2 linked regions of the Homo sapiens genome follow. The protein of the gene in region 2 purifies or fractionates together with the protein of the main gene of each other region. This does not show direct contact. Each region holds a gene or a part of one and is shown on either strand. Other genes may lie near its edges.

Region 1 (3,654 bases), on a different chromosome or scaffold from region 2:
AGCAGCGATCATGCCACTATGCTCCAGCCTGGACGATAGAATAAGACCCCATCTCAATCAGTCATTCAATTAAAAAAAAAATCTCTTGGGACACTGGTTGAATTTCCTGTTCATTCCTTTCTTCCTCCTTGTGAAGACCAGTTTCTGGATTCCCTCTTTCCTGGGAGAGCCTTGGTCATTGTTACTTATTGAGTAGCTTCTCCAAGCATTCATTGTTTTTACATACCTTGTAATAGGACTTGATTGTAGTTGTTTTATCTCAGAATCTCATTTCCTTAAGGGAATGTGTGATATTTGACAGGATGCATAACTGTTGTTCATGCAGGTGTTTTAAGAAAAAACTTGGGCCGATAGAAGAGATAATAGTGTTTGTTTGCATTTTCTTTAAAGGTAGGCTTAATTGAGGGCAGTTGGACCTGCATCCTTTTCCAGTAGGTTGGAGAATCACCTACATTAGTAGAGCCTCATATATTAGTAACCCTGGTATCTGCCTGGGCATCTTTAGCGGGTGGGGGGTAGAGGATGGGTTTGGTCCCTTTACCCTATTCTGACCTGAAATGCTCTTCATCAAAGCTGAGTATGACAGTAAGCATAAAGACTGACTACATTACAAGCAGGGCTCTGAGCCAGAAGGTGGGGCCTTTGTATCCTGTTTGGAGTAGACTTCCGTGGTAACTGCGTCTAACGCTTTCTCACAGCCGCTCCTGACATCACTGGCCATAAACGGAGTGAGAACAAGAATGAAGGGCAGGATGCCACTATGTATTGCAAGTCAGTTGGCTACCCCCACCCAGACTGGATATGGCGCAAGAAGGAGAACGGGATGCCCATGGTGAGTAGGAGGCAGGCCCGGGTCTCTGGTTGCTGGAGTTTTCCCTGCAGAGGTCCAGACACGTGGGTCAGTTACTGTAGTAGCTGTATCCTCGGATGTGTGCATGGCGAGGGTCACCCTTTCTAGAGTCACGGTTTACAGCATGAATCAAGAGGTCATTGACAGTCTCTTCCAGCACAAAAATCCCTGTACGTGATTTGTTAAAGCTGTCCCTCTGGTAAGAGATTAGATTGCTCACTGTATTAGTCCATTCTCACTTTGCTCTAAAGAACTTCCAGAGACTGGGTAATTTATAAAGAAAAAAGGTTTAATTGGCTCATGATTCCACAGGCTTTACAGGAAGCATTGCCGGGGAGGCCTCAGGAAACACAGGAAAGATGATCTTTCCTATCTTAGACAACAGAGTGACATCTGGCCTGCTTTGAGTTTTATTGCTTTCAGATTACTGTAACTGAAGGTGAGGCATTGACAGGTAATATAGTTAAGATAAAGCTAAATCCAAAGAATTAGCCTCCCCCTCAGGCTTCTTTGATCCTTGAAACTTACCTATTTTTTAGACTGCAGTTGCTGTTTATTTCTTCTTAAGTGATCCCTGTAAGTAGAGAAACTTAGAATCATGGTGGAAGGTGAAGGGGAAGCAGGCAGGTCCTAGGTGGCTGGAGAGGAGGAAGAGAGTGAAGGAGGGAGATGCTACACACTTTTAAACAACCGGGTCTCATGAGAATTCACTGTCAGGAGAACAGCAAAGGGGATATCCGCCCCCATGATCCTGTCACCTCCCACAAGGCCCCTCCTCCAACACTGGGGATTATAATTCACCATGAAATTGGGGTGAAGACAAAATCCAAACCATATCACTTGCCTTCAGGATAGGACACTGAAAGAACCGAGCCTAATTCTCGTCCATTTATCCTGAAGAAAATACTGTTTTTGAAGTGGTCTTAGAGAACCTGCCTTGTTTTTTTAGTAGGAAACAAGGTACTGAGGGCAATTATTAGTACATTCCTGCAACACAGAACATACTGATAAGGAATTGGGGCAACCTGAGGAGGCCCAAGGTACTGAGGGCAATTACTAGTACATTCCTGCAACACAGAACATACTGATAAGGAATCGGGGCAACCTGAGGAGGCCCAAGGGCAGCCTTGGCAGCCTTAGACATTGGGAACCTGACGGTATTTGCCCCAGAAAATGTCAAAGAGAACATCTTTTCCGATCAGTGGGATGATTCATGATGTTGTTTGGAGAGTCAGAGCTTTAGAACCTCACTTTCTCTCTCATTATGATTGTTGACCCATTACCTTTTCTGTCAGAGAGCGTGTCAAGCGTTCCTCTGATCCCATGGATCCTCTTTGATTATCAGTCTTCAGAATCCAAAAGGACCTTAAAGATCATTAATCCATCTTCTTTGGAAGGGTTCCATAGTAGCCAAGATAAATTAGTGGCAAAACCAAGAGTTGTATCTAGTTTTTTTAAATTTCAAGTCCATTATTCTTCCTACTTCATGACATCTTGATAATAAAATGTTGAGTTGTGATAATGACTCCAACATCAGCGATGATTTCAGAGACCCGTTAACGAGGAGCAGGATGAGGATTGCCGAGGTGAAGATGCTGAGTCTTTTTTACAAGACACTGAACTTTCTAAGGCACTGGAGAGGAAATGTCCACTTCTCTCTGCTGGTCACTGGGAAGGAGTGCCCTTGAGCTTTTGCCAAAGCAGGTTGGAATTAACGCAGTATGTGTTTTAATCTGAAAGATGAAGCTTGAGGCATCACAGACTAGCTGTTTTAAAAGCTTACGAGTTCCCCATTTCAGATGTACCTGCACTCAAATGCTGACAAGATTGTATGCCATATCTAGAATCATTTCCAGGATAATATTCCCCTTTTTCTCTCCTATTTCTGATTGTGCTTTAGTTGTTGCAGGGTAAAGACACATGAGTCTGTTTTTTCCCTGCCGGGATCTCATGAGCTGAGTGCAGTGAGCCATCCCGCTGAGTCCCGACCTCTGCCTGTGCACTCTTGCACCTCTGCCTTCACACCCATGCGAATCCCTGCCTGCACTGCTCCTCCCTGTTTGATCAGCTGTCCTCCTCCACAGTCTAGTGCAAATGTTAGCTCATGTGTGAAGCTTTCCCTGACTCTTTCCAGCAGTGGCCACTCACTGTGCCCTACAGCACTCTATACACACGCTCTGTTGGGGCTTCTTAACACATTCCTGAAATCAGTCATCCCTTTTTGGATGTCTGGTTCCCTTTTGAGGCCAAGCTCCTTATTCATTTCTAGGTCTGTCTTCTCCCTATCTCACCTTCTCACTCCCACCTGCCCTTAGTAGGATATAAAGCATGCAGCATATTTTAGTAAATATTTGTTCTCTTTTATTTGTTTGTTTTGTTTTGTGTTAAGACAGGGTCTTGATCTGTCTACCAGGCTGGAGTGCAGCAACCTCCTGGGCTCATGTGATCCTCCTGCCTCAGCCTTCTGTGTAGCTGGGACCACAGGTGTACACCACTATGCTCAGCTAATTTTATTTTTGATTTTTTGTAGAGATGGGGTCTCAGTTTGTTGCCAAGGCCAGTCTTGAACTCCTGGGCTCAAGCGATCCTCCCACCTTAGCTTCCTAAAGTGCTGAGATTACAGGCATGAGCCTCTGTGCCCAGCCACAAATATTTGTTGATTGATTGAATAACCTTTCCTCTAACCTCTAGTCCTTAAATGAAAGGAAAGTTATGAATTTCCCCCAGTCTGACTAGGAGTGAGTTCTTAGCATTGTTTGTGGAGGAAGTTTAAGGAGACTTCCTCAGAACTCACCAAGTGTGAA
Region 2 (3,654 bases):
TAAAGGAATTAAATACACAGATGTATTATGTAATTTTAATTGTAGTAGATATAAACAATTATAAAATTGCTCATAATGCTGGCATTTTGTAAGGAATTTGATTTGGTCAATCATGGTCTTTTGAATAACATTTGCAACTACATTTATGAAATCTTAAGTTTTCAGTGGAAGCCCTTTCTGTATATTTATGTATATTATTTGTATATTCCAGTAAGTTTTAAATTTGTTTAATTATTTTGAGTGCATTATCATAAAAGAAGCATAATGAGAATACAGACTGCATTTAAGAAATGGCAAGAGTGACTCTAGAAAGTTTTCAGTATTTTGCTTTGTAGGAAAAATTTTCATGATAAATTTACTTAATTAGGATTAGGCATTATGAGATATTTCATGTTTTAGATAAGATATTATTACTATAATTCTGTTTCTCCATATGTCATAATATTATTTCATCTTGTCATTTCATCTTCATACATAATGTGTTTTTTGTTTAAATAACACTCTGAAACTAGGTGAAGTAATCCTCATGTTTTTATTTCTTATAGATCACTTTTTAATTCGGGCCTCTGCAGCATTAGAAAAATTGAAACTCCTGTGTGGAGAAGAGAAAGAATGTTCAAATCCATCAAATCTTCTAGAACTTTACACACAGGTACTGAAAGAGTGGTGGACTCTGGCATTTTATGAGGGCAGGTTGTTTATTTAGATGATTGACTCCAACTTTAGGTAAAATGAAATCAGTTTATTCTATATTTCAAGTGTTTAATTTTGTCCAAAAAACTATGAATAAAACACAAAAACTTAAAACTTTGAGGTAGTATGAAAAGAAGTAAGATTTATTAGATGTGTTAATAAGAAAAGTCAGGAAGAAAATCTTACAGATAACGGAATTGTTTTCCTTTAGAGATAATTGAACAGGACACTAGTGTGTGCAATGTCCAATCTCTTGAAAGTTTCAGAGGGAGCAGGGGAGTATATAAGGGCCCTGACTTTTTTTTTTTCCCCTGAAATTTACCTTCCCTAGGATTCTCAATATTATTCTCCCTGCTAGTGTCATGCATATCTATGTGATTTTTCTATTCACCCACTTTTTTTTTTAACTTTCCTTTCCAAATCAGGCTGCTGTGTGGACAACACCTTTTTTTCTTGGTTTTCTGAAACACTGCTGAGGCATGCTAACATCAAGAAATGTAATTTTATTATGGTAACTAACATCTATATAGCACTTTGTAGTTGATAGAGTGTTTTCATGTGCCCTTTTTGGATTGCTAAGGGATAATAAAACTGAAGTGGTTACAGAAAGTACAGTACACTTAGTTAGGCTTCCAAAGTGCCCATTTATAGCATTTAAATGCTTGGTGCTGTTCTTCCTGTTAGGAAATTTCTAAAGATAGCTTCTGCCTTCAAACACCATGGATGAGTAAGCCTAACAGCTACTCACAAACCACAGAGAACTGTTTTAAGTTTGGCAGGTATTTTGCTTGGTTTTCTTTCTGTTCAGAAGACTCTGTGCTTGTCTGTATGTGTTTTATGTCATCTCATTTTTTTCACGAGAGTGTTCCAGACATTTTAACTTACTGGAATAAGGCAAAAGACCTAGAGATACAGATTTCAATTTTAAGATCCTCTTAAACCCTATTGATGGTTCTGAATCAACAGATCACCTTTCATATGATGATGAAATCATATATGATGATCTCTCCTTACTGGCTTAGGCCTTTCGCACGATAACATTTACTCCTCATGTTCACAGAAAGTAAAGCACTAACTGGGTGCTAGGTAACGTTTCTAGTACCTTACATATGTTAATTAATTTTTTACTCCAACAAGGAACTTTGAAAGGTATTTTAGTCCAATTTATCATTTAGCCAATTAAGAAACTGAGGCTCAAAAAAGGTAAAATTGACTTGTCTTTGGTTAGTTAAGTGATTAGTGGTAGAACTGACCCTAGAACCCAGTTTCCTTAGTCTTAGTTCAATAGATTAAAAAAGGAAAAAGGATTGGGGAGTTTTAATATGCTTTAACAGCATCTCTAATAATTAGGAATACTGGGGGCTTAGTGTTTGAGTTGCATATGTTGATGGTATGCTTCCTCTATTGGGTGGCAGGATACATACGCCCCTCACGCTGGCTCTGTATTTGGGAACACAAATCCTTTGAAGGTTCAAAACTGGAAGTAGTGACCTTAACTTGATACAGCAGGCATTTAGAAAATTTTCAGGGGTTATATAAGTAGTAGAATATAATAATTACCTTTTTCATAATTATATATGATTAAATTCTGTAAATTAAAACAAAGCTCTATTTTCTTTTTTGAGGGAAAGAAAGATTATCATTAATTCAGCACTTTAGTGAAATACCTATGAAGTTTTCTTTAAAATCTTTCTCAAATTATATTTACATCTAGACATTTTGCCTACTTCTCAAATTTACATACTGAGCTAGAAGATTTAAATGTGTAATAAAGCACCTATGTGTGCAAGGTTAGACTGTAAGAATTGTTTTTTTTCAATTTTAAGTCATTGATAGATATCTTTCTTTTTTTTTTTTTTTAGGCTATTTTGGACATGACATATTTTGAGGAGAACAAGCTAGTAGATGAAGATTTTCCTGAAGACTCTTCTTCACAGAAAGTAAAAGAGCTGATTAGTTTTCTTTCAGAACCAGAAATTTTAGTAAAGGAAAATAATATGCATCCAAAAGTAAGTTTTACATTCCTGTTAATTATGATGGAATATTGCTGGTACTTGCTGTCCTGCTTTTTGGAGTCTATATTTTTTTCTTCTTGATTGTATCTTTGTTTCTTAAATTAAGATTGGAAGAGGGAGATAAAAGAGCTTAACACTTCAGACCAATGTTGCAACAAAAGTATCATATTTTACTAAATGTATTTCAGAATATTTGCATAATAGAATTGTAATAGCTGTGCCTAATCATTTTTTTTAATATAGATATTCCCATTTCGACCCCCTTTACTTTTGCAGATGCTGTTTTCTTGAAGGTCACTATTAATCTAATTACCACGTCTGTTCTTACAGTCCTTATTCTCTCGAACATTTGCTCCCCTTCTTAATGTTGATCACCCCCTCCCTCTGAGACCCTGCATGCTTCTTTTCCACTTCTTCATCTCTGAAATGTCTTCTCTTGCTAGCAACTGTTCTGCCTTCCATTCTAGAAACACAGGTACTAGCCAGGGATGTCTCTTTCATCACCGATAGTCTCTATTCTGTCTTTGCTTGATAACCTGTTCACAGGCTTTGTACTGTCATCTCTATTTGGATAATCCTATGATTTGTATATCTAGTCCTGGATACTCTTTGAAGCAAATAATTTCTCATCTTTAACTGCCTGCTGACTGTTTACTTAGATATATTTTTTTTCTCTATTTATTTATCAGGGGAGGCTGTGGAAACATCTCCAAATTTCAATGACAAGCCACTTTAAAAATTTTGATTTATTAAAATTATTTTTGGGTGTAAATTTTCATTATTTTATTCCAGCGGTAGTAGAAATAGATATGATCTCACTTCAAGTAATGTATTTGTGAAAAGTTACCTTTTTAATGAGATGATGACTGCTTATATTGCAAACCTGTTAGGGGAATTTGCTAGTAAAAATATTTTTTAAATTATTTTGTAAAACTACTAGTAAATT

Evidence for each region. The genes of interacting proteins can lie anywhere in the genome.
Region 1: the proteins of RIMOC1 (region 2) and NPTN purify together in Homo sapiens (co-immunoprecipitation; one large-scale study listed by IntAct). This does not show direct contact.

What each region holds. Positions count from the first base shown.
Region 1 is NC_000015.10:73,570,840-73,574,493, reverse strand, and holds part of NPTN (neuroplastin isoform b precursor), read left to right. Parts: intron 1-698; coding exon 699-832; intron 833-3,654. UniProt on the Homo sapiens protein: Probable homophilic and heterophilic cell adhesion molecule involved in long term potentiation at hippocampal excitatory synapses through activation of p38MAPK. May also regulate neurite outgrowth by activating the FGFR1 signaling pathway.
Region 2 is NC_000005.10:41,907,191-41,910,844, forward strand, and holds part of RIMOC1 (RAB7A-interacting MON1-CCZ1 complex subunit 1), read left to right. Parts: intron 1-545; coding exon 546-652; intron 653-2,555; coding exon 2,556-2,702; intron 2,703-3,654. UniProt on the Homo sapiens protein: Plays an important role in the removal of damaged mitochondria via mitophagy by controlling the stability and localization of RAB7A.